Regions from separate parts of the Homo sapiens genome. Here regions 1, 3, 4 and 5 are each linked to region 2. Evidence: fine-mapped expression QTL. A gene starts in region 2. Each other region holds a variant in brackets. All regions are shown on one strand. Distances are between the middles of the regions.

Evidence for each region. PIP is the estimated chance that this variant, and not a neighbour inherited with it, causes the effect.
Region 1: its variant is fine-mapped to the expression of MSR1 in whole blood (TOPMed, PIP above 0.99).
Region 3: its variant is fine-mapped to the expression of MSR1 in whole blood (INTERVAL, PIP 0.99).
Region 4: its variant is fine-mapped to the expression of MSR1 in T cells (TOPMed, PIP 0.97).
Region 5: its variant is fine-mapped to the expression of MSR1 in whole blood (TOPMed, PIP above 0.99). The same link has a PIP of 0.9 or more in blood mononuclear cells.

What each region holds. Positions count from the first base shown.
Region 1 is chr8:16,505,275-16,510,385 of GRCh38, forward strand. All of the region lies in intron 7 of LOC101929028 (a long non-coding RNA gene), which reads right to left. Among named protein-coding and RNA genes, the nearest start is that of MSR1, 320 kb to the left of the region's middle. The variant T/C (reference allele first, on the strand shown) is at 2,900.
Region 2 is chr8:16,190,619-16,195,729 of GRCh38, forward strand. It overlaps MSR1 (macrophage scavenger receptor 1), which reads right to left and starts at 2,033. Exons shown (of 10, transcript NM_138715.3): 1 at 1,980-2,033.
Region 3 is chr8:16,157,291-16,162,401 of GRCh38, forward strand. All of the region lies in intron 5 of MSR1 (macrophage scavenger receptor 1), which reads right to left. Among named protein-coding and RNA genes, the nearest start is that of MSR1, 33 kb to the right of the region's middle. The variant C/T (reference allele first, on the strand shown) is at 2,789.
Region 4 is chr8:16,538,299-16,543,409 of GRCh38, forward strand. The region is part of intron 6 of LOC101929028 (a long non-coding RNA gene); the gene reads right to left. Among named protein-coding and RNA genes, the nearest start is that of MSR1, 350 kb to the left of the region's middle. The variant T/C (reference allele first, on the strand shown) is at 3,125.
Region 5 is chr8:16,545,352-16,550,462 of GRCh38, forward strand. All of the region lies in intron 6 of LOC101929028 (a long non-coding RNA gene), which reads right to left. Among named protein-coding and RNA genes, the nearest start is that of MSR1, 360 kb to the left of the region's middle. The variant A/T (reference allele first, on the strand shown) is at 2,353.

The DNA.
Region 1 (5,111 bases), 310 kb after region 2:
TGATTGGAAGCAGTGTTACGTCTTCTTGTCTACCAGAGTCAATTGCCTCTGATTTATGGTGACTCCTCTTCTCACCTGCTGGTTTCTCTGATTTATAGTGACTCCTCTTCTCATCTGCTGGTTCCTGGTCACAAAAAGTCCAAAGAGCCCTGGCAGTTGCCATAACTTGTGGCCCAGTGGAATTCTTTATTTGACTCTGGCAAGAGTGTGCCACACTGGGAACCACGACCTTCAGTTCAATGGAAATCGGAGTTGTGGGAATGCATAACACAAACCATCTCAGTCTTAGAGACTGATTGTATATCACTTTTCATTCCTTGGTGTCCTTTTTTATTGAGGACAATGAACCATATAAATCTTTAATTTAAAGCATGTAATGCACCCGGAAGGATAACACCCATTCTTTCAGAGTGTTGTCTCTAAACTGGCATTTTAACTGTGCTTTTAGAAGGCTGTGTCAGAGCTCTGTGGGGCCAGCTGCTTCAGGATAATGCATTATGTATTACAACCATTGCATTTCATGATCATGGACTACTTGAAGTCTTAGGCCGTGCAGTAAAGAAGAGAAAGCAATAATAGGCATAAAAATTAAAAAGAAAGATGTAAAAGTGTCTGTATAGAATGAATATGCTATCTTCTTAGTAGAATACGTTAAATAATCTGTTAAAGAAACCAATTGAAACTATTAAGTTAGTTTAGCAGAGCAACAGGGCATAACAGCAATATACAAAAATCGATTGTAATTCTATATAGTGATAATAAACAAATGGCAATTTAAATTAAAATTACAACATAATCACATGAAAAAACATGAAATACTTAAAATATGCAACAAAATATGTGCAATGATATCAGCCAGCACAGTATTGACATAAGGCTATACATATAGAACAACGGAACAGGATGGAAGCAGTGATATGCAAAAAATTAACTTGAAAGGGATCATAGGCCTGTTCAGAAAACCTAAAACTATAAATCTTCCATAAGAAAACACAGGAGAAGAGAATTGTCCTCAGCTTAGGCAAAGATTTATTAGGCAAAAAAAGCATTAAGTTAAAAAGTTAAAAAGCATTAATCATAAAAGAAAAAAATTATAAATTACACTCATTCAAAATTTAAAGCTCCTGCTTTTGAAAGATTCTAAACATGAAAAAGCAAAAGATATATCAGAGAAAATATATGTAATTATCTGTTAAAAAGCTCTAATCCAGAATAAAGACTTCTTTCTAACTCATTAACATGACAAATAATTTAAGAAAGAACTGGAGACAGAAAAAAGCAGAGATAACCAAGAAAGATATATAAATGGCAAAAAAAAAAAAAAAATCACACAAAACCCTGATCAACGTCATTAGTTGAAATACAAGTTGAAACCTCAGTGAGATACCACTACACATGCTACAGAATGATTAAAATTAAAAAGACTGGTCAAGGCAAACATTGATAAGGATGACTTCTGGTGGGAATGCAAAATGGCACAGTCACTTTGGAAACTATTTTGTTAATTCCTTGGATAGTTAAACATATACTTGTCAAATGATTTACCAATACCACTTTTAGACATTTACCCAAGAAAAATGAACACACATATGCTCCCTAATGCATGTGAATGTTCACAGAACTAGAAAGTCATGTGGGCATACCACAACTGGTCTATCACACATGAATAAGCAAAAAAAAATGACACATCCATACAATGTAATACTGCTTAGCAATGAAAAGGAAGGGAATATTGATACGCACAATATCAATAACTTTTTGTGAAAGAAGCCTGACACAAGAGACATTGCATTGTATAATTCCACTTATATAAAATTCTAGAAAAAGTAAAACTATAGTGAAGAAAGTTCATCAATTATTGCAAGAGATGGGAGTAGGACATTGACTAATGGGATGTGCAGAAACTGAGGGGTGATGGTAATTTCCCACATCTTTGATTCTGAGGATATTTAACTGACGATATATATGTCACAAATCATCTAAACATATACATAAAATCGGTGAATATTTCTATGTATGTCAAACCACATGAATGGTGATTTAAAACAAAAGCACATTATCAACATTGTCATAATGAACCTCCAGAGGGCTTCAGTTTAGTTAGAACTAATGAAAGCATACAAAATACCTTCCAAAATTACTGCCTAAGGACAGGTGACCAGAGCACTTGTCCAGCAGCTTTCAGCCCTTGTGTGGTTTGTTACTTAATCTTGTCCATCATAGCTACATAGGTTCTTGGGACAAGGCCCTGGAGCAGAAAGAAGAAAGACATCTGCTGTCCAGGGAGGCTAGATTCTTGTCTTCATGCTTGTCCTAATTAAAAAATATTATTTTCTTTCTTCCTGTTCAGAAAGTTGGCCCTTACCTAGATGAAGTCAGAGTCTTGGTTTATAGCCAAAATAAAAGAGGCTTAAAAATCAGGAGTTTTGCCACAATGAGATATCATCTCACACCAGTTAGAATGGCGATTAGTAAAGTCAGGAAACAATAGATGCTGACGAGGCTGTGAAGAAATAGGAACGCTTTTACCCTGTTGATGGGAATGTAAATTAGCTCAACCACTGTGGAAGACCGTATGGCAATTCCTCAAGGATCTAGAACCAGAAGTACCACTTTACCCAGCAATCCCATTACTGGGCATATACCCAAAGGAATATAAATCATTCTACTATAAAGACACATGCACACATATGTTTATTGCAGCAATATTTACAATAGCAAAGACATGGAACCAACCCAAATGCCCATCAATGATAGACTGGATAAAGAAAATATGGTACATATACACCATTCAATACTATGCAACCATAAAAGGGAATGAGATAATGTCCTCTGCTGGGATATGCACGAAACAGGAAACCATCATCCTCACAAACTAAGGGAGGAACAGAAAACTAAA[T/C]ACCTCATGTTCTCACTCATAAGTGGGAGCTTAACAATGAGAAAACATGGACACAGAGAGAGGAACAACACACACCAGGGTCTGTTGAGGGGTATGGGGCGAGGGGAGGGAACTCAGAGGATGAGTCAATAGGTGCAGCAAACCACCATGGCACACATATACCTATGTAACTAACCTGCATGTTCCTCACATGTATCCCGTTTTCTGTTGTTCTTGTTACTTTTTTTTTTAGAAGAAATAAAAAAAAGAATCAGAAATCTTGGTTGTAACATCAAATTTGCCACTAACTGGCTATATGTGTTGCAAGAAGTCAGTTTAATTTCTGTGTCAAATTTTTCTCATTTGTAAATACAGGGGTTGAGTAGTTGTTTTCAACATTTTTTAAAAAACTAATATTGGTGTGTTGCTCATCCAACCGAATTTACTCAACAATAATTTATTTGACCAACACTATTGGCGTGTGTGTGTGTGTGTGTGTGTTTGTGTGTGTATATATATACACACACATATATATATACACATACATACATATATATTCACATATATACACACATCTGCAAATATATGCTAATGAGAACTACAGATACGTGACAATTTTCATATTTCAGTGATAGAACTACAGAAAAAAGCAAATAAACTAATCATTTAGTCTATACAGTTTTATCATGGCTAAATATTCATTTTCCATTAGCGATTTTGAAATATTTAAAAACCAGCTACTGAGCTCTTTCCATTAGTAATTATTGCCTTTCAGTAACATCTTTCCACTTATAGAAACAAATATATATGTAATTCCTAAAGACCCTTCCTCACATTTCTGATTATCTGCTTCTATGTCTCTTGATTGCTCTCCAAAGATAGATAAAAACAAAGTAAACTATGGCTCTTATAAAATGTACCATTTGTAATACAACAGTATTAGTAAATTCATGTAAAGAGGAAAACCATGAACCAATTCAATTGCACTTAATACAAAATATCAACTATATTTCCAGTTTAGACACCCTCTGAAGAATAGATGAGAACTGTTTTGACTTGGATCGTTTGCTGTTACCTATAGGCTTTTGAGCATAGCATTATTTTCCCTCCACTGTGACAAATTTCACAAGAGAAATGGAATGTGGATGGGATATTGTGTCATCTTCCATGCGTTTGTTAAGTATAGATTTCCCATATTCTGCAACACCTTTGTGTTTTCAATTTCTTTATTTTCATAAATAAAAAAATGCTGCAGCTTATAATAATAAATACAGACAACTAAAAACTTGAGAACAAATCAGGATTATGCAGTAAGCTACAAAACCATTAACTGGGATTTTGGAGTGTGTGAATGATTTTTTAAAAAACTAAAACGTAAAGCCAGATTGTAGTAGGTAACTTCCATTACGACCCTCAGTGATCCCCACCCACTTCCTAGTATTCCCCTCTTTGTCACACCTCCTCCCTTTGAGTGTGGGCTAGACCTAGTGACTTGCGTCTAAGGAGCAGGATTCAGCGTAAATGATTGGATGGCACTTCTGAGGTTAGACTTTTGCTTCTCTCTTAGATGATCTCTCTTCTTCTCTTAATTGCTTGCTTGGAGGGAAGCCAGTTACCATATTTTCACCTGCCCTACGGAGGGAAGCCAGTTACCATATTTTCACCTGCCCTATGGAAAGGCCACACAGCAGGAAATGAACTCAGAGAGATCTCCAGCTAATAACCAGCAAAATCCTGGTGTTTGACAGTAAGCATGTGAGTGAGCCTGGAAATTGGTCCTCTGAGGCCTGACAATGACCAGGTGAATAACCTTCAAAGCAGATCCTTCTTCTCCCAGGTGAGCCTTGAAAGGACTGTGGCCCTGGCCACCACCTTGATTTCGGCCTTGTGAGAGACACTGAACCACAAACACACAACTAAGCCACACACAGATCCCTGACCCAAAGAAATCATGAAACAATAACTGTTTATTATTTTAAGTTGCTAAGTTCAGGGATTATTTGTTCCACAGAAATAGGCAATGAATACACCTTGCTTCTCACAGCAAAAAAAAATCACTCACACAAGATACATAGTTCCTGATGATAGCATCAGATACTGAAGTCTATTTCTGTATTAAAGAGACTGAAGCTTCAGCATTTTTATTCAGCCATTTGGGGCCAAGCAAAGAGAAAATGGCATTTAAGGCAGATTACTTTTTCTGTAAGTCTTAGCTCATTTGCTTTAACTGAGA
Region 2 (5,111 bases):
GTTTAATACATATTTACCATCTGTCTTTTCATACTTGACATGCATTCGTTTTCCTAAGATTTTTCCCTATTTAGTTTTTTTATCATATTCTTTCTTTTTTCTTTCTTTCTTTTTGTTTTTGAGATGGAGTTTCGCTCTTGTTGCCCAGGCTGGAGTGCAATGGCGTGATCTTGGCTCACCACAACCTCCGCCTCCTGGGTTCATGTGATTCTCCTGCCTCAGACTCCGGAGTAACTGGGATTACAAGCATGCACCACCACGCCCGGCTAATTTTGTATTTTCAGTAGAGACAGGGTTTCTCCATGTTGGTCAGGCTGGTCTTGAACTCCCGACCTCAGGTAATCCACCTGCCTTGGCCTCCCAAAGTGCTGGGATTACAGGCGTGAGCCACCGTGCCCGGCCCATCATATTCTTAAGGCCAACTTTATCTTCAACATTTGGAATAAATAATAAGCTTGTGATCCTCCTTATTATATAAAATAATAACTTTGATTTTTGTAACAGCAGTTGAATGTGTATATAAAATGAAAATTAAATTAAGATTATTTGTGAAACTAACAGCTTTATGCTTAAGGAACCCGTCTGTAAGACAGATTTTAGTAAGAAATGGAAATATTTATATTGTGCCTGATGTCACTGATATTCATCCTTGGTAGCAAAGAAGAAAGAGCATCAACTTTTGAATCTGAAATCTAGATTTGAGTATTGACTGTGACATCATTTAGCTGTGTGATCTTAGGCAAATATTTTAACTTATTTGAATTGAACTTTCTTTAGATATGTAAAATATGATCACAATATAAATTTAAAGAATTATTGCGAGAATTAAAAATAATTTTTGTAAATTGCCTGGTACACAGAAAACCATCAATATATGAATCCCTGTTATTTTAAAATATCACTTTTTTTTTAAATATGAGCTTTTCTTATTTTGTTCTCACGGAATCTTCATGAGGTACAAGTAGTATTTTCTCCATTTTACAGGTTAGGGAACTGAAATGTGTAAGTAACTAGTCAAGTTACTCAACTAGGGAGCAGGGGAGCTGGAATTTGAACACAGGCAGTCTACTCCCAGAAGATTAGCTCTTACCCACTGCATAAAACGGCTAATCACTGCATAAAACATCTGTAATCTCAGTTCTATGGTTTTTCTATAAGTATTTTTACCTGGTCAGTGCAAATGCCAACCTCCCATTATATGCTGTGTGAATCTTACTTAGTCTTCAAGATTAATCAGATTTCTAGCATCTCCATGAAGATTTATTTTTGATAGACTTTTTTCACATAGAAGTAATTTTGGCCTCGCCTATATTTTCATAGTAATTATCTATAGCATTTTCATACTACTTAAGGTGCTAGTAATTATCTATAGTACTTTCATACTACTTAAGGTGCTCAAATTACATTATGCCTATTTGGGGATATGTTTTAAATCATAAGATTCCGGAGCACAAAAAGAACTATATCTTATTTTTTGTATCCTTTCCCCACATCTAGTTCAATGAAGTGCATATAGTAGATACCCAGCCAATATTTGCTATATAATCAAGGGAAGATAATAAAAGGCATTAGATTAAAGCCAAAAATGTTCCATGAAAAGTTATGAAAGGAGAATAGGTGAAATATGTCAAATTATACTTTGAATAAAACCAGTATTTTAAACAAAATATGCTTAATTATATGAAAAAACCCCATTGCTGGTTCAAACTACAAAGCATTTAGTGTATTTCATATGTACTTGTGAACATATATGTTTTTCACTCATGGAAAATTTAGCAGAAATCCCTATTTTTTGATTATCGAAAAAAACCAAACCAAATTATTGCTGATACAATAAAGCATTCATCTCATCATACACACACAGACACACAAATATATATCACACACATGCATGCACACACACACACAGAGTACACACATAACAATCAATAGAAACAATTCTGGAAAAAACATTAAAATAAGCCTTTTTTTTTCTTTACCTTTCGTCCTAAAGAAAGCAGCACTGATTTATCCACTTCTCTCTCTTTACAATTGAAACCTAAAATCTTTATCTCATAGTATTTCAGCATCTGGTACATGAAGAAAGGAAATGACACATTCCTGCGTTGAAAATCTTTCTTAATGTGTTTCAATAGCACTCTCATCAATGCACAGGTTTGCAAAATCTAAATTTGTCAGATAACTCACTCTTCACCCCATTTAGGCCGCTTTAAAAAAAAAAGAGAAGTGAAAAGGAAAAGAAACAAGGGTTGTTGAAACAAGCACATAATTTACAGCAGATTGAGCTTTCCTTTTTTTTTGGAGATGGAGTCTCGCTGTCTCACCAGGGTGGAGTGCAGTGGTGTGATCTCCGCTCACTGCAACCTCTGCCTCCCAGGTTCTACAGGCGTGTGCCATCACACCCGGCTAATTTTTTGTATTTTAGTAGAGACAGGGTTTCGCCATGTTGGTCAGGATGGTCTTGATCCCCTGACCTCATGGTCCGCTCGCCTTGGCCTCCCAAAGTGCTGGGATTACAGGCGCGAGCCACCGTGCCCAGCCTGATCTTTCCTTTTTTATAAGTAATCTATGCCTTCTAAAACATACATTAATTCTCATGATCTCCTCTTTCACGTTACTATAATGTTGAGTAAAGACTCCATGTTTGGCTAGGTGTGGTGGCTCATGCCTGTAATCCCAGCACTTTGGGTGGCCGAGGTGGCTGGATCACTTGAGGTCAGGAGCTCTAGAACAGCCTGGCCAACATGGTGAAACTAGTCTCTACTAAAAATACAAAAATTGGCCAGGCATGCGCCTGTAATCCCAGCTACTCGGGAGGCTGAGGCTGAAGAATTGCTTGAACCCAGGAGGCGGAGGTTGCAGTGAGCAGAGATCGCACCACTGCACTCCAGCCTGGGCAACAGAGTGAGACTCCACCTCAAAAAAAAAAAAAAAAAAAAAGACTCCATGTTTAGAGATTCGAGTTTTTTTCTTAGATCCTTTTTCCTGTACCTTTATCCCTAGCCTCAAACACAAAACACGTGAAGAAAGAATATGATGCCTTAGTAAGAACAAGTAATAACCTAAAAGCACTCACTCCTGTTCTCTCTATAATGATAATAGCATTAATTTTTAGAGCACCAGACAAGTTGTTTATTTCCAGTAGTATAGTAGAGGGAAGGAATCTCAGGCATGGATCAGATGAAAGGGATGTTCTTTCCCTTCTGCCATCCATCAGGGTTTTATACAATTCAACTCCGTTATTTACTCACATTCAAGAAGTTCAAGTATGACTCACATGAAAACGTTCAACATTACATTAATGAGCTAAGTTTTACAACTGATATTTCTGGGAGAAGGTGTTTAGCTTATATTCCGTAGTCACTCTTTTGTGCCCAAACAGGAGAAATCATGCTTCCTACCAAAAGATGCCCCAAATTGCTGTGCCCATGGGCACCATCCTTCAGAAGACAATACGTCTGCAAGAAAGTATGCGGGAACAGCGCACGGTCTTTGAGAGATGCAAAGTAACAGTATTATTCAGTTATTCTTAAGGTAACCACTAAAAGGCTAATAGTAGTAGTAGGACAGGCATCAAAGTAAGCTGCATAATTTCTAACCAGGCAGCTTGAAGACTAGAAGTACGATCACAATTTGATCCAGCCTGGACCAGCATAAATGCTATTGGCTATTCCTCATCAAATTCTTACTGACACAGAACTGGAGACTACAAAACTCACACTCTTTCCTTTACAATTATTTGTACATGCTTCTTATTTTAAAATATAGTCCTTTTAGGTTTTTTTGTACAAAATCTGAAGTTTAAAATTTAGATATCCCTGACAATGCTACGTGATTAGAAAAGTCAGACTCTGGGAATAACAAGACACCAATCTCCCAAAATTCTATCCTAATGAGGTTTCTTTCTGTCAGTGTGCTTTATTTTCAGTATGTCTCTGTAATACTGTTTGGTGTATATCCACAGTGCTGACCACTTCCCTATGTGATGATTTCCACACTCTTCAGCCAATCTAATTTTTCATTAAAAAACTTCCCTTTTTATATGTCTAAATAGGTACTATATAATTTTATATAGTTTTATATATAATAATTATAGATTATGTAACATAATATTATCTATTAGGTCTTACTATATGTAAAAACACCTTTAGCAGGGAACCATGTTAAAAATGTTCAGTTCAAGCCAATGATTAATTGAGAACAGAGGTAATATGTAAAGGGTTGGGATTTTGCATTCATTCCTTCATTTGACTTCACAGCAACTTTGTCATATCACTTCCCTAATTGAGAAATTAATGTTTAGAGATGGTAAGTAAATTTCTCGAGATCAGAGTTATGAGTCATCAGAGCTGGTATTTAAACCCAGTCTGATTACAAAATTTGGCAAAATATAGTTTTTTCTTAAGCTGAAGTAGGTATATGTATTATTAGGGGACTATAATATCTCCATCAAAAACAGTATACAGAAAACAAGCCACAAATATGGGCAAATTCCAGATCATGTGGATAGTTACTTTGTTCATAGTTATTGTGATGGATCCCAATTACTTTATTTTTGTTGCTTATGGATATATGTGTCTAGAATGAGGTCCATGTAAGATTATGCCCAGTGACCAAACAGAGATTCATAATCAAATAGGCAAATGGCTTGAGAGAATTGATTCAAATGTCCTAGGACTCACTGTGGTACAGGTATACTGAACTCAAAAGAAGAGTTAACATTTTACACTCATTAAGAGGTATTTTTGTATGTCTAAAGTTACAGCAGGTTGTTAGTCATAATATATAGTTAATACATTATGACTTATTTATTGTATGATATATATATGATAAAGTTTCGAGATAAAATTTTTCATGTTCTTAATTCAAAGCAATAAGTAAATAGTGATATAAATACAGATTTTAATAATGCTGCAACGGACACATATTGCTGTGGGATTATAAAGCATTTACAGAATTATCAAAACATTCTTTAATAAAATTGACATTGAAAAATTGCATATTGGCAGAGCTTTTTCTTTGATAATCATAAGCAGAAAACTGTGAAGGTACCAGTAACATTTTATATAGCCTTATTAAACAGAACTTTCCTATATGAGAATTATTGAAGT
Region 3 (5,111 bases), 33 kb before region 2:
TATATTACATGTAATTATGGGAACTGTATACTTAATTTTGGAGTATTAGTTCAATCACAGCGAATAGATCAGTATTATTTTACAAAATTTGGAGTTAAAGATCCCTCTCTGTATTTTTATATAAAAATACTGATACCTGGTATTCGAATCCTACAATAAGAAAAACAGGTAAAGATTTTTGTTAGAGTTCTAACTAGGCATGTTGAATGTACCTTTTTATTGTCATTCTATTCTTCATGTAACATTAATCTCACATTATGTTTCATTTTTGTACATTGTTATAGATCTTTTACTGTTTCTAACAAAATGTTGGAAGGATCTCAATAAATGTTTTAAGTGTCTTTTAGATTCATTGGGGGAATAAAATAACAAATTATATACCACTTTACTCTTAGTTTCTGATGCAGAACTTTTAAGAACACTATCCACTACCTTGCCACCTTCCAAAACTAGCCTCCTCTCCATTCCCATTGTAGCTCACGTCTTCACCATCACACAGCTGGACTATTGCTAGAGATTTTTAATCTAGTCTGAATGTGTTTTATCTGTTTCACCTCCTAGTTCCCTCAGTGTTGGCTTTCTTCTTCTTTTTGATAAGAATCCGTTTTGCAATGTCTCTATCAAATTAAGGAAATGCAGTAACCTATTCTGTCATATTATGGAAAAAAGAATAAAGACTTAGAGTCTCTTGTAGTCACCTTTTGTTCGTAGTTTCCATTTAGTCTTTTCAAAATTTTGTTCCATACTGACATAATAACTGCCTCGTTGCATCAATAAATGGACAAAATGCTACCTGTCAGCTCCCTTGCTGATACATGTCAAAAAAAATGGGTTAATATTGGCCAAAATATATGATTTATTCTAGTTCAAGAAGCCATAGAATTTACATTATTTTTCATCTTTAATATTTCCAATTACAGTTACAGGAATAATTCATAAATACTATCACAATAATCTGCCATGAAGAATTACCTTTATACAACACATGCACAAAATCTACTATGTAGCTTCCTCCATGATTACTTCTTAAAAAGGAAAAGTAATATTTCTATATAACCACAAAAAAGTACTGATATATAATATTTGATAATCATCAATATCATAGAACAAAATTACACAATTTACTAGAAAAACAAACCCAGGTGTATCATATCATTTAAAATCCTCAGACGATAACATAGCACTAATAATATCTGACTAAGTTTCCAGAGCGATGCTTCTCTAGTTTTTATTCATTATGAGCATTAATCTTCTACTCCGTTTTCAATCTTGTCTCATATTCAGATCATCATAAAAATCTGCCACATCTTCTAGTCTATTGCTGCCTAAACCTGCTTCTTTTTTTTTTCTCTAGTTTTCATGCTCATTGATTTAGATATGTTTAATCTGGAAGACACTTTAAACATTGTTTAACTAAACATATTTATAGAGGGTCAGAGAGTGAGTTGCTCAAGGTCTTAAAGCTAGTTGGGTTAAATCAGAACTAGAAGAATTTCATTTCTTTCCTGATCCTATGCTACCATGTTCTAAATTTAATTGACTTCATTTTCCACATCTGTTCTTCCATTATTCCTCAGCTGAATTTTTCCTTTACATAGTGGTTAGACAAACTCACAATTCAGTTTTTTTCCTTTGGTTAATTTTTTTTTTTTTTTTTTTTTCAGAGATAGGGTCTTGCTACTTTGCCTAGGCTGGTCTTGAACTTCTGGGCTCAAAAGGCCCTCATGTCTCACTCTCCTGAAGTGCTGGAATTATATTGTCTCAGCCTCCCAAAGCGCTGGGATTACAGGCATGAGCCACCACTTCTAGCCTACAGTCCAGCTGTTACAATCTCAGTAATTAATTATACAAAACTCCAAATTCAAATGCCCTCAGTTGCTTTTTCATTTTCTCTACTATAAAAATCAATATTTCTTTTTTGGTGCTTTCATATCCTAGGAAGCCAATATATCTAAAATGTTTCCAAATAAACAAAATGTTAGCTATTCTCACCACAGAGTCATATTATATTTTATTTCTCTTAAATACCTTTCTCTAGAGTTCATCTTTGCTTCTTTAAATCACGTTATCCCCAACTCTCCACCAAACTCTACTTCACCATTTCCACAATGAAATTTTATGTAGTTCTTTAAGGCTCTAATTATTATAACTATTTGAGAAATGTATTAAAAAATCTTTGTCTCTTTTAACTGTATAATTATTTAGTGATTATTAATATAAGGGAAAAGAGAACACAAAGTAATTACACTAACTCTGCAATCAACACATGATAAAGGATAAAGCACTCATTAATTTCTAAAATATGGTTCTTAAGTTATAATTTAATTAATAGATATTTTATGGCTAGGTGCTATAAGAGATATAAAGAACAGTTTCTAATGGAAGTAGCTTGTGTCCAGGAAGAGTGAACACTGTTCTCGAAGAGAATATGAGATACTTTTATACATAACTATCACATTAAGTATTCTCTTGTGAGAGAATACTTAATGTTCCATATTAAGACAGAAATAAGTATCAGCTGGGCCTTACTATTGGTAGAACCAGCAAAGGCTTCATGCAAGAGGTGGCATCTTAGATGGACTTTGAATGATAAACAAGATATCTTCGAATACAAATCAAAGAGAAAATATTTCAAATAAAGGAAAAGACATGAGGCAGGATGCACAAAGTACTGGGTACATTAGAATCACAGTCAAATTAGTTGAAATATTTGATATACAAAAAAGACAAGCGAGGGAATGAAGCATTCAAGACTAGTTAAGAGACACACTGAAAAAGACCTTGAGTG[C/T]TACAGGCAAAACTGTATGTCTAATGACGGGGCAACAGAGAGTCTTTATGCAATCTAAGACTTCCTTTAGGAAGGCTGTATTCTACAAGGGTGCAAAAAGGATTACAGTCTGGGCAGGAAACAATTGCAACTCTGGCAAAGAGTCATAAGAATAATTTATACGAGGATATAAAGAAATGACAAAGGAACAGAGAATACAGAATGTTGAGAACTAATGGTGGTCTTGGGAGATATAAAATAATTAAAATTGATAGCTTGGAAACCAGGAAGAATGACACTGCTATTATAGAGTGTAACTTGCTAAGACAAAAGTCTTAGTTTCACTTATTCACTCAACACATATGTAATTGCTCACCCACTATTTTCCAGGCACTCTAACAGGCATTGGGATTGCAGAGGTAGACAAGGAGGAGAAGACTTAACCTCACAGAGCTCACATTCTGCTGGAGAAGATACAAGCTAAACAAGTAAGCAAATGTAGAGATGACATGATTTCATATAGTGGTAAAAACTATGAGGAAATTAAAGCAAATCATGGTAGAGAGAGATGGGGGAGTTTAGAATAAGAATGGTGGAAAGTGGAGGAGGTAACTTCAAGTGGAGCCAAGAAGGAGTAGAGACGTAGAGAAGAACCTTTCAAGAGAAAGAGAAAATGTCTAGTGTTCATTATGGACAGCATGAAATGAAACAAGCACTTTTTCTATATTAACTTTTACTTGTTCGTGGCACTTCATTCTTCCACATTTCCAAGCTAGGCAGAAGGATGACAGAGGGAAGATTGAGAAAATTAGGGCAGAGAAGTAGACAGGTGACAGACCAAGTAGAAGTTTAGATTTTATCCCAAGACTAATGAGAAGACATTGGAGGATTTAAGCAAGAGAGAGAAAAGACACATCTAGTGTAAAGAGAGAAACCACACACATCCAGTAATTTGTGTGGGTTTTCTTAAATAGCATTTTTTTTTTTTTTTTTTTGCTATTTAGAATGGACTAAGAGCAGAGCCAGGGACACCAACTGAGAAGCGGATGTAATACACCAGACTGGGATATGGTTGCTTGAATTAGAGTAGTAGTAGAGAGTAAGAAGAAGTTTGGTTTGAGATATTGTATGAAATAAGAATTAGTAGGACTTACAAATGGATTACATAGAGAATGAGAGCAAGGAAGTCAAAGACAGCTTCCAAGATCAGGCAGTGAGCAGGTAGTTGGAAAATGACAAAACCAACAAAAAGACTGAAAACGCAACAGATTTGGGGAGGCAGATGCGGGTGGCTAGTTAAGAAGCAAGGATTTGGTTTTGAATTTGTAAAGCTTCGGACATTTATTTGAAATCCAAAGTGGAGGTATCTAACTGTTAGAGAAAAATCTGATTAATTCAAATTTTTCTTTATCATCTGTTTTATTGTGATAAATACTATATATGATATGTGTTCTGTATAAGCAAGCTATAAAGTACAACAATAATGAGAATACCCTTGCAACATCACAATCCAAGAAATCGGTATCTACCTAGATGTTCCCCTATCTCATTCATCTATTTCCTTTTCATAGATAAATATTACCCTGAATTTTGTGTTTATCATTTTCTTAAATTTTAAAACAATGATTATATTACATATTTATGTGTCTGTAAATTTACATAATTTTACTAACTATGAGCATTAGAAGTAAAAATTGTCTATATATAGTTTTCTGGGACTTGTTTTTATTCTTTTTTTCATTGTCATCACTTGATTATTAGGCTTCTTAATTTTCTCAAACTAGTGTATTTGAAATGAAGTCACATGAAGTTCTTAGTTCTATTTTTCTAGTTGCTAATGATATAAAATGAGACAAAATATTAAAATCATGAAATAGAGCTTAACAGACATGGAAGCTGGAATGAGAACATCCAATATGAATTTCATGTAAGTTACAGAGGAAAGGAGAGAAAGAATCGTGAAGAAGCAATAGTCAAAGTGAATGAAGCTGGTTATATTCCCAAACTGATAGACATAAATCCACTAATATAAGAAGTACAGCAAATGTTAGATGGATAAATTATCAATACAAAACCACAGATAAGTAAAACTGCAGATATGAAAGACAAAGAGAATGACAAACAGATTGGTGGCAGTCATTTTAAGAGCCACAAGAAAAGCTTGAAGCCAGGGGACCAATTTTTTCAGCACACTGATAGAAGGAATCAAAATAACTGTCAACCTAATAAGTGTGTATATAGTAAAACAATTTCAAAGATCAAGTCAAAATAGAGAAAATGAAATCAGAAGGTTTCTTGATCAATTTACTTTCACTAAATGAACTTCCAAAAGATATACTTCAGG
Region 4 (5,111 bases), 350 kb after region 2:
CTCACTTGCTATTGTATAGCCTTGGGAAAACTACTTAACATTATGTGGTTATTTCTTTCATTTGTAAAATGAGGATGTAGTATCTAATTTTTAAGGTTACTATATTAATTAGGTAAATGTTAATGTAACTAACCCACAGTTCACCTAAAAATATGATAAACCAAATTGGGTTCAACCATATTGTACACTTTCATAACCCATTGATATTTTTTTCCATGACTGTATCTTTTAAATTTTAAAGGAATTGTCTGCTTTATTCACATTTTTATCTGAAAATCTTTTTTCAACTTTTAAGTTCCGGGTTGTATGTGCAGGATGTGCAAGTTTGTTACATAGGTAAATGTGTGCCATGGTGGTTTGCTGCACTTATCAACCCATCCCCTAGGTATTAAGCCCTGGGTCCATTAGCTATTCTTCCTAATACCCTCCCTCCCCACCCCTAATATGCCCCAGTGTGTGTTGTCTACCCCCGTGTATCCATGTGTTCTCTCGTTTTCCTTCCACTTGTAAGTGAGAACATGTGGTGTTTGGTTTTCTGTTCCTGCATTACTTTGCTGAGGATAATGGCTTCCAACTTCATCCATGTTCCTGCAAAGGACATAATCTCATTCCTTTGTATGGCTGCACAGTATTCCATGGTGTATATGTACCACATTGTTTTTTATCCAGTCTATCACTGATGGGTATTTGGGTTGATTCCTTGTCTTTGCTATTGTGGTTAGTGCTGCAGTGAACATATGCGTGCATGTACCTTTATAATAGAATGATTTATATCCCTCTGGGTATGTATCCAGTAATGAGATTGCTGGCCAAATGGTATTTCTGCTTCTAGATCTTTGAGGAATTGCCACACTGTCTTCCACAATGGTTGAACTAATTTACACTCCCACCAACAGTGTAAAATTGTTCCTTTTTCTCATCCTTGACAGCATCTGTTGTTTTTTAAAGGTTGGAGGAAAATTACAAATTTTTAAATAACTTGCCAACTCCTTATTGTCTTTTTTCGTAGGTTGTTTTGGTGAATTATACAAGGGGAGTCATCGAAATTATTTTTATACCTTCTCCATTTAATCATATTCTTCCAGGCAGAAACTGTTAACAAGATTATGAAATGCAATAGATTTTCAATATCTAAACATGTTAAAATGCTGCAATTAGGTTCCTTTAGTACATGTACGTTCCTTTGTAAAACAGAATTATAAGTAATATGCCATCTGCTTTACCCTATTTCTAATTATAGCATTGCATATGAATTTTAATAGGTATCATAATTTGAATCACTATCATGAGAAAATATAGAGATATAGGTTATTGTATCTGTTTATTTTCACAACAAATCTGTAATAGTAAAGAATATTTTATGAAATACTAAAGTATAAAGAGAAATTGTTTTTTACTGCAATGAAAAAATTGATTAAGTCATTCAAAGGGTGATAAAATTTAATTTCAAAATAGATACTCCAGAAGTTGAACAAAAATGGTTTTGATTATAATAATAGTGCACATAGATATTATACAAAAAATGAAAACCTGTATAAGCGCAGCCGGAATCATCCTCTGATTGTATGTGGCTGTTACCATTCAAAATTAGTTATAAGAAAAATCATAGTCACTTGCTGAGGGTCAATTATTGTGCCAGATACTCTACAAAGCTGTCCAATGTCCATGTTTTTTCTACTTCATTATGCCCCAGGCTTTTTTTTTTTTTTTTTTTTTTTGAGACGGAGTCTAGCTCTTGTTGCCCAGGCTGGAGTCCAGTGGTGCAATCTCAGGTCACTGCAACCTCCACCTCACGGGTTCAAGCGATTCTCCTGCCTCAGCCTCCCGAGTAGGTGGGATTACAGGCATGCGCCACCACACCCGGCTAATTTTTGAATTCTTTTTTTTTCAGTAGAGAATCTCACAATAATGATTTGGGTTTTTTGACATGCCAAAAAGATTAAAAAGTGCAAATCATAAAGGAAGAAGGAACAAAAACATCCATATAAGATGATAACAGGTAGCATTCACCACTTAATAACTTTTTATTTGGTGAGATAATTTAATTCTTTGAGTCTTAGTTTTCTTATTTGTAACATTTAAAAAAATTCGCGTCAAAGTGTTATTGTAAAGCCTAGGTGAAAGCATGCATATAATTCTCTTAACACTAAATTCACAATAAGTAATATATATTATTTTGAAGAACTCTGTATGAATTTTTGTTTAAGAAATGTATTAGTACTTCTATCTAAGGAGATAAAAAATGTAGAAGGCAAATAGATTTATGACATAATTAAAATACTTTGAAAAGAATTATAATTTTTTCTAGAATTAACTAGCAAGAATGGAGATGATAATGTTAAAAATGAAGAGAGTTGGGGAAGTCTTAACCTAAGACATATTAAATTTTATATTAAAAATAATATTTCTCAAAGTTGCTATTTTCTAAAGAAAGAAGAGGCATTTAAATGAAAGACACAGTAACGTATGTAAAACACATCCTAAAGCAATAAGGAAGTAATTCTGCCAAGAAAATTAGCTAACAATTTAAAACAGCTTCAAATGAGATTCTTACCTTATAGACTATATCAGCTAAATTATTTTTATTAATAATGTTAGTATTAATAACAATATTTTTACTTACTATGAGACAATTATTAAGCCATTTATCAGAGTAAGAAACTGAAAAATTTGCAAAGGTTGGTTAAATAACTTACCCGAAGTCAAGAACTAAAAGGAGAGCTAGAATTAAATAAATATCTTAATATAAATAGGCAAATAAATTGATAAAAGGTAAAAAAAATAGTGTGGATAAGAATGTTTTAAGCATTAAGGAAAGAGATTGCTATCAAATGAAAATATTTGTAGATTTAATTCCAGAAGAATTTAAAATTTCTGACAGTGAAAATTTATAACCAAAAGCAGCCATTTCTGAAAGTATGGCAAACAAGCTATTGTGAAAAGTTGTGTACATTACTCCAAGCAATTTTAATTGCACTGCTAAACTCATAAAGCTAGGAAGGAAGAAAGGGAGGAAGGTAGGAAGGGAGGAGGAGAGGCAGGGAAGGAGGGAAGAAGGAAAGCCAAAGACTAATGTGTAGGCATAGGATGGCTCTGCCAACAGCAAAAAGAGTAAACACAATTC[T/C]CTCTGGGAGAAACATTCCAAAATGAGATAGATATTTTAGAGTTTCCATCTTGTAGTAAAAAACGAAGTCAATGTGAAAATATTACCAGACTTTAACAATGAAATTTTCACAAGCCAACGCAAACATAAAGAAGTTAAAAAGAATAATGAGCAGAGTAAGCACATTAGATCTAGAAATGATTATATATTAAAAGGTAAAAACTAATGAAATGCTTAAGGAAATAAAAGATGTTATCAGAAATATTAACAAGAAAAAAATCCTGTAAACCATCACGAGACAATTTTGAAAGAGAATTCTAGAACTTATAAAATTAAAACTAAAATCATTGAAAATAAAACTTAAATCCAGTTAAATAGTAACTTAAATACAGCGAAAAGATGTGAACTGTAAGAAGGTAAATGGATTAATCTACTAGGCAATATATCAATCCAAAATGTATATGCAACCAATACCATAGTTTCAAAATATATAAAGCATGTATTGATAAGATTAAAAGGAGAAATAAGTAAATCTAAAAACATACTGGGAGATTTTAACATGTATAACTCAGTAATATTTGGAAGAACCAACAAAAGAAATTAGTATAGATACAGACGCTTTGATAACAAACCTGACGTGATATGTATAGAACACTAAACCACAAAACTTCAGAATATATATTATTCTTAAAGGCACGAGACAGTTGCTGAAATTAACCACCGTAATAAAGCAAGCCTCAACAAATTTTAATAGATGGAATTCAGATACCATATGTTCTATGACCTCAATGGAAGTAAGTTGAAAATTAGAAACAAATAGATACCTTAGAATATTGTCCAATGTTTAGGAATTAAATTAAATTATGCACTTCTTAGGAATCCATGAGTCAAAGGAAAATAGAAAATATTTTGTACTGAATGATGACAACATACCATATCCAAATCTGTGTGATATAATTAACATTGAATTATTGAAAAATAAAACGGAAGAAGTTTAAAAAAAGCAACAGACTCTAAAAAGAAGGATATGATAAATATAAGAGGAAGATTATGGAAGAAAAGGAAAAAATTAAATAAAAGGTACGCAGTCAAAAAATGATTGAGACCAATAAAAGCGATTAAAAAAAAAAACTTTGACAAGATGGATAAAAAAAAAAGGAGACAGGGAGAAAGTAAAATTTACAAGTGTTAGGAAAAAAGTATTCTGATATTTAAAAGATTTTAATAGGAGAAATATCATTTGAAAATTAAATAATATGCTATATTCCTAAAATAAAAAAAATGCAAGAAGCAATAGATATTTTAATAAAATTTGCATTTGTTGAAACATCTAAGCCCATAAGCAAAATTTTCCATAGAAATAATCTAGGCCCAAATGGCTCACTAGTGTATTCTTCCAAATATTTAAAGAAGAAATAATGTCAATCTTAACGAACTCTTCAGCATACAGAAAGAGTGGGAATAATTCCTGATTGATCTTATAAGCTCGACCTGACTTGTTACATCAACAAAGGAATTGTGAGAAAGTAAAATTATAGGCCAATCCCTCTCATTAACATGGATGCAAACTCTGAAACCAAACACTTATAAATGAATACATATATTGGCCATTTTGTATTTATTCCAGACTTTTATTGCACAAAATACCCAAAATCCAGTGTCATTCCACACATGAAGAGAATAAAGGAGAAAAATTATATGATAATTTCAACTGATACAGAAACACTTTTTTTTTTGAGACGGAGTCTCGCTCTGTCGCCCAGGCTGGAGTTCAGTGGCGCGATCTTACTGCAAGCTCCGCCTGCTGGGTTCACGCCATTCACCTGTCTCAGCCTCCCGAGTAGCTGGGACTACAGGCGCCTGCCACCACGCCCGGCTATTTTTTTTTTTGTATTTTCAGTAGAGACGGAGTTTCACCATGTCAGCCAGAATGGTCTTGATCTCCTGACCTCATGATCTGCCCGCCTCGGTCCCCCAAAGTGAGAAACACTTTTAATATTACTTTACA
Region 5 (5,111 bases), 350 kb after region 2:
GGTTCCTTTACCGTACACGTGGTTGACAAAGAAAAGGGAAAAGGGAGCCTCAATGTTGAACATGCCTGGCCCCCAGGTAGCCTTATCCTATTGGCACAGCTGCCAGCATTCACCCGTGCAAGCATCCAGCTTGCCTTATCTACGTCTGCAGTTCGATTTTACAGGCTGCTCTTTGTTAGAGAAGGAATGATATGGGGGCTGCGTTTTTGTAAAAAGGGAAGCCTTACTGAGGACTCTCTTACCCTCACTAACTGCCTAAATAATTTCTTTTTAAGCTCCTTATCAACACTGCTGTACTCTTAAAAATGGTAAAGATGGTAAATCCTGTTTTTTATCACAATAAAAAAATTAAGAAAAAAGATTGTACTAAAGGCTCTAGACAGTGTAATAAGGCCAGAAAAATAAAAGATTTAATAATTGGAAAGAAAAAAAGACTATCATTATTTGCAGATGCATGATTGTATAATATAAATATACCAAAGGTCGAGAAACTATGGTAAGAATATTTAATCAATTCATACTTTTATTATTAGATATAGTAATTTTTAGCAAAAAGCATCTATTTGCCACCTAGAAATAATCCCACATAAAGTTAGACAAGAACTTTATACCAACAAATGATAAAATTTTGTATATTAAAGCAGACTATAATAAATGGAGAGATACTCTATGTGTAAAGACAGGACAATTAGTTCAACCCAAACTGGCTTATGAATTTAATACAATTCCAATGGAAACTACATTTCTTTAGTTAACTGATATTATGATTTGAAATTTTATTTGAAAATCTCGTGGGCAGTGACAGCTAAAGCACTCACCAAGAAATATTATCAAGTTTTATTACAAAGCTAGAGTAATTTGTATAGAACCCCAAAACCGAACCAACCTATACAGAAACTTGTTACATATAAATACTGTGTATTAGAGAGAAAGACAGGACTTAGTAATTAGTGCTGAGACAATGTGTTATCCATAAGGGGCAAACAATAGTGATAGAACACTTATCTCACAGCATGCTTTAGAACAGGAGAGAAAGAAAGAAATGTGTAAAACTTAACAATTGTTTATGGCCTAATATACAGAATGATGTCCTAAACAAAATACCAAAAAGTAATTATATTAAGAACTCTTGGGGGTAGGGAGGAAATGGGGATATGTAGTTCCAAGGCTGCTAAGTTGCAATTAGTAGAATGAATAAGTTTAGAAATTTAATGTACAGCACGAGGATAATAGCTAATAATATTGTTTTGTATACTGGAAGTGTGCTGAGAGAGTAGATTTTAGGTGACCTCACACACACACACAAACACACACACACACACACACACATGCACTCCAAGGGATAACTGTAAGATGACAGATATGTTAATTTGCCTGAATATAGGAACTATTTCATTATGTATATTAAAAAATTATCTTGTATACTTAAATATAAACTATAAAATATTTCTTAAAATCTCTTAAAATTTCATTATCACTAAATTTAATAAGAAATTTGTTCATTAAGGGGAACCTTTTAAAAACATAGAAAACAAACCACAAATTGGGAAAAGATACTTGAAAATGATAAATCAACAGAAAATTAATAACATGAATTTATAAAGTTCTCCTTCAAGTTGACAAACAGAAGACCACCCAATAGAAAGATAGGGCAAGAGATATGAATAGGCAGTTCCAAAGAAGAAACCCAAGTGGTCAGTAAGCACATGGTAATATATTCAATCCATCACGAATTAGAAAAGTACAAGTTAAAACCAATCAAAATGAGATATAATTTTACAGTGACCATCATAGCAAAAATGTAAAAACAAAGTTGGACAAAAACAAATATTGGTGAGAATGGGAAGCCCAATAGGAATTCTTATATACAGTTTGTGGTCATGTAAATTTATATGGCAATTGCTGTATGCAGTTGGGTGAATTTGTATTTGTCAGTTTAGCTAGACCAAGTTATGTTTCCCAGCACTGCTGTCTTGCTTAGTTCTAAGTTAATGCAAGCCACAAGAGATATTCTGTGCAAGAGCTGGCAGGTAAAAGTGAAACAGCAGCTATGTACCTATGCTTGAAACAAGAATTGAGAACACCACGTACGAATTCAGCTTACACGTATTGTCAGTTGCTGCTGGCTCACTGGGGCTGTATGGGGCACCATTTGGCCCACAGCACTTAAACATCCTGTGGCTTCTGCAGGATCCTAGTTGGGACAGCATATCTGCCCCAGGGATATTTCATTCTTTCTGGTGGCATCTTTTTTTTTTCTAGGAGGAAGCACCTGGTATTACTAAGAATTATGCTTCCTGTCAATGATACCGACCTGACTTCAGCAGAAAGAAAGCGCACTGACATTATATA[A/T]CCATAAGTTGTAAAAGAGAGGGGAATTTAATTCTGTGATGAAGGACATCATGCTCTCCTAGAAGGTATTCTTATGGTCAAAGTTGAAGTCTCAGAGGCAGAGGGAGAAATATGAAGGTTTCAATTTGCCATCATGGATTCCAGCTTATCCATCCTCTGTTCTACTTAGTATCATCTTGCCTTCCTGACTACCCGCTCTACTGATGTTAGGCTCCAACCCCAAGCACAAAACAGCTTTATACAGACTTTAACCAGCTGCTACAAATATATAAGGTCAAATTCTTATCATAAGTTTCTTATCACATATATAAGTAGGATTCTGTTTCTTCGATTTAATCTCAACTGTTTCAACTGATTATGACATAGACATAATAAGACAAATTGCAGCAAGTAATGGCTTGACATTTTATTAACCATGAAAAAATACCAACTTTTCATTTATTTAAAGACAAAAACAACACATAAAATTCACCTCTCTTAAAACTTATGGTCTGTGTGCTTTCTTTCTCCTGAACTCAGGTCAGTATCACTGACAGGAAGTATAACTCTTAGTAATACCAGGTGCTTCCTCCCAGAAAAAAGTAGAGGCCACCAAAAATGCTGAAATATCCCTGGGGCAGATTTAGGTGTCACCTGACACACATAGAGCATTTGTGCAGAGACTAAAAGATTGATCTGAGAAACCACTTCCTGGGATGAAATGAAAGCCAGGCAGAGAATCCCATACCCAAATATAATCTAAAGGGGTTAAACTGAGAAAAAGAACACCGGTGAGACAAAGGGATTTAAACTGGAGGAACAAGGAAAGAAAAAGTGAGTATATATTTGAAGGTGAGAGGTAGAGCCTAGAGGAATCCATTGAGGCAAAGGAAGCCAGCTCTAGCTAGTTGTTTTTCTAATGGTCCCTGGTGACTAAAAGGCAAGTCACAGCCATGATTTTACTATTACCATTACATTTTTTTCATAAAGCATCTTTAAAGACACTGCAGAAATCTGGGGGGAAACTTCAACAACATGTTGATCCAAAGAACGAACTATAAACATATTACCTGTCAACTGCAACACTAAAATATAGATCAGTTAAACTAGTCATAATGACATGTAAACCTCATATATCTGGACTTCAGTATTTTGATCAATATCTTGAATGCCCTAATAGTCTGGCTATAGATTGATATCTGGCAATAAATGATTAACTTGTAATGTATGAAAATACTGTTTAGCTTTCATAAAATGAGTAGTAGTAATTTGAATGTATGATTTCAATGGATTTTAAAATATTTCTAAAGAAAGAAAAATAATGACTCCAACTCTTTAGCAAAAATATCATGAGACATATAACCAAAACAAAAATGTCTTGACTCTGAATAAAAATTTTTTTTTCAGTTTTCAGCTATTTCGTTCAAATTTGTGTCTCCATATTCACTGTGCTTTCTGTTTTGGTACAAAAATATTTTCTTAAAATTGGATGTAATAATGATCAACATTTTGCATTGTATTTTAAATTTAATGTAGAGTTACTTGACTTAATTCTGTGGCAACTTTTTGTGAAGTGGGGTATCTTTATTTATGTTCCTAATTTTAGCAAAGTTTTGTCATTACAAGCAACCTCAGTAAGTATTATATACAAAAGTATGTAAACAGTTTCAATAATATGCATTCTAAAACATATCATTTCTAATGATAAAATTTTATATTCTCCGATTTATAATTTCACAGTCACTACTAAAAAAACTTTTGAATATTAGAAAAAACTACATTGCTCATTTTGGTGAATGAACTTAGCCAGAAACTCAATTTGCAAATAATGAAATCTAAAATAAGTGTAAATTTTATTAAATATCATGGGGAAAGAATTTGAGGTAACTGGGAAGTAAATGTCTACTAATCTTATTTTTGGGTCTAAACAATGGTAACCTAGAGGTTTGCATTCTCAAAGGCATTTATGTCCAATAGATTTACATAATCCCAAAGGTTCTCTAAATAAAAATTTGTGGGTTCTGGCTCTACTATAACATTAATCAAGATCAAATTAAGGATTTATGGCTTATAATAAAGTAGTTCCAGTGTCTATCACCTATTTTTCTAAATAGTTCATCAACTGGCTTTTACACTAGATTAAATTCCTTCCCTGTAGAAGAAAACAGCTCAAGTCTTAACTCCTACAATTTATATGACAAATAAAAATCAATACAAGTGTTCTTGTTAATGGTCTTATAAGAAAAAGCCAGAATATCTGGAACAGGAGACAAAAGAACTCCAGGGTCAAGTCTACTCATCTTTGGATTCCAGCATCTTAGACTTCCCAAGAATAATGGCTCTCATATTACCCTCTTACCTTCTGAACTGCAATCTTTCTTGAATTATGAGCCTAACTGTGCATGGCAGAAGTGTTTCTTTAACAATCCTAACTTTATCACACTGAAACACTACGAGACAGTGCAATAAACCCATCTTCATAGCTTTAAATATTACTATAATCTAAGAAGTACAAATGTTAGGGAATTTCATAGATATTGGAAATGAATCATCTGTTTAAACCCTATCACTTTTTATTTGAGGAAATTAAAGATCTTCAAAACATAAACACTGAGCCCAAAGTCATAGGCCTAAAGAGAAAATTTAAACTAGAACATAGACACGTGATTTGTAGCTAATATTATCATCCAGTTGGACGTATGAGCATAGGAATTTAGAGCAGAAAGACAGTCTAATTCTATCCCTTTATTTTATAGACAAGCAAACTGGGCTATAATGAT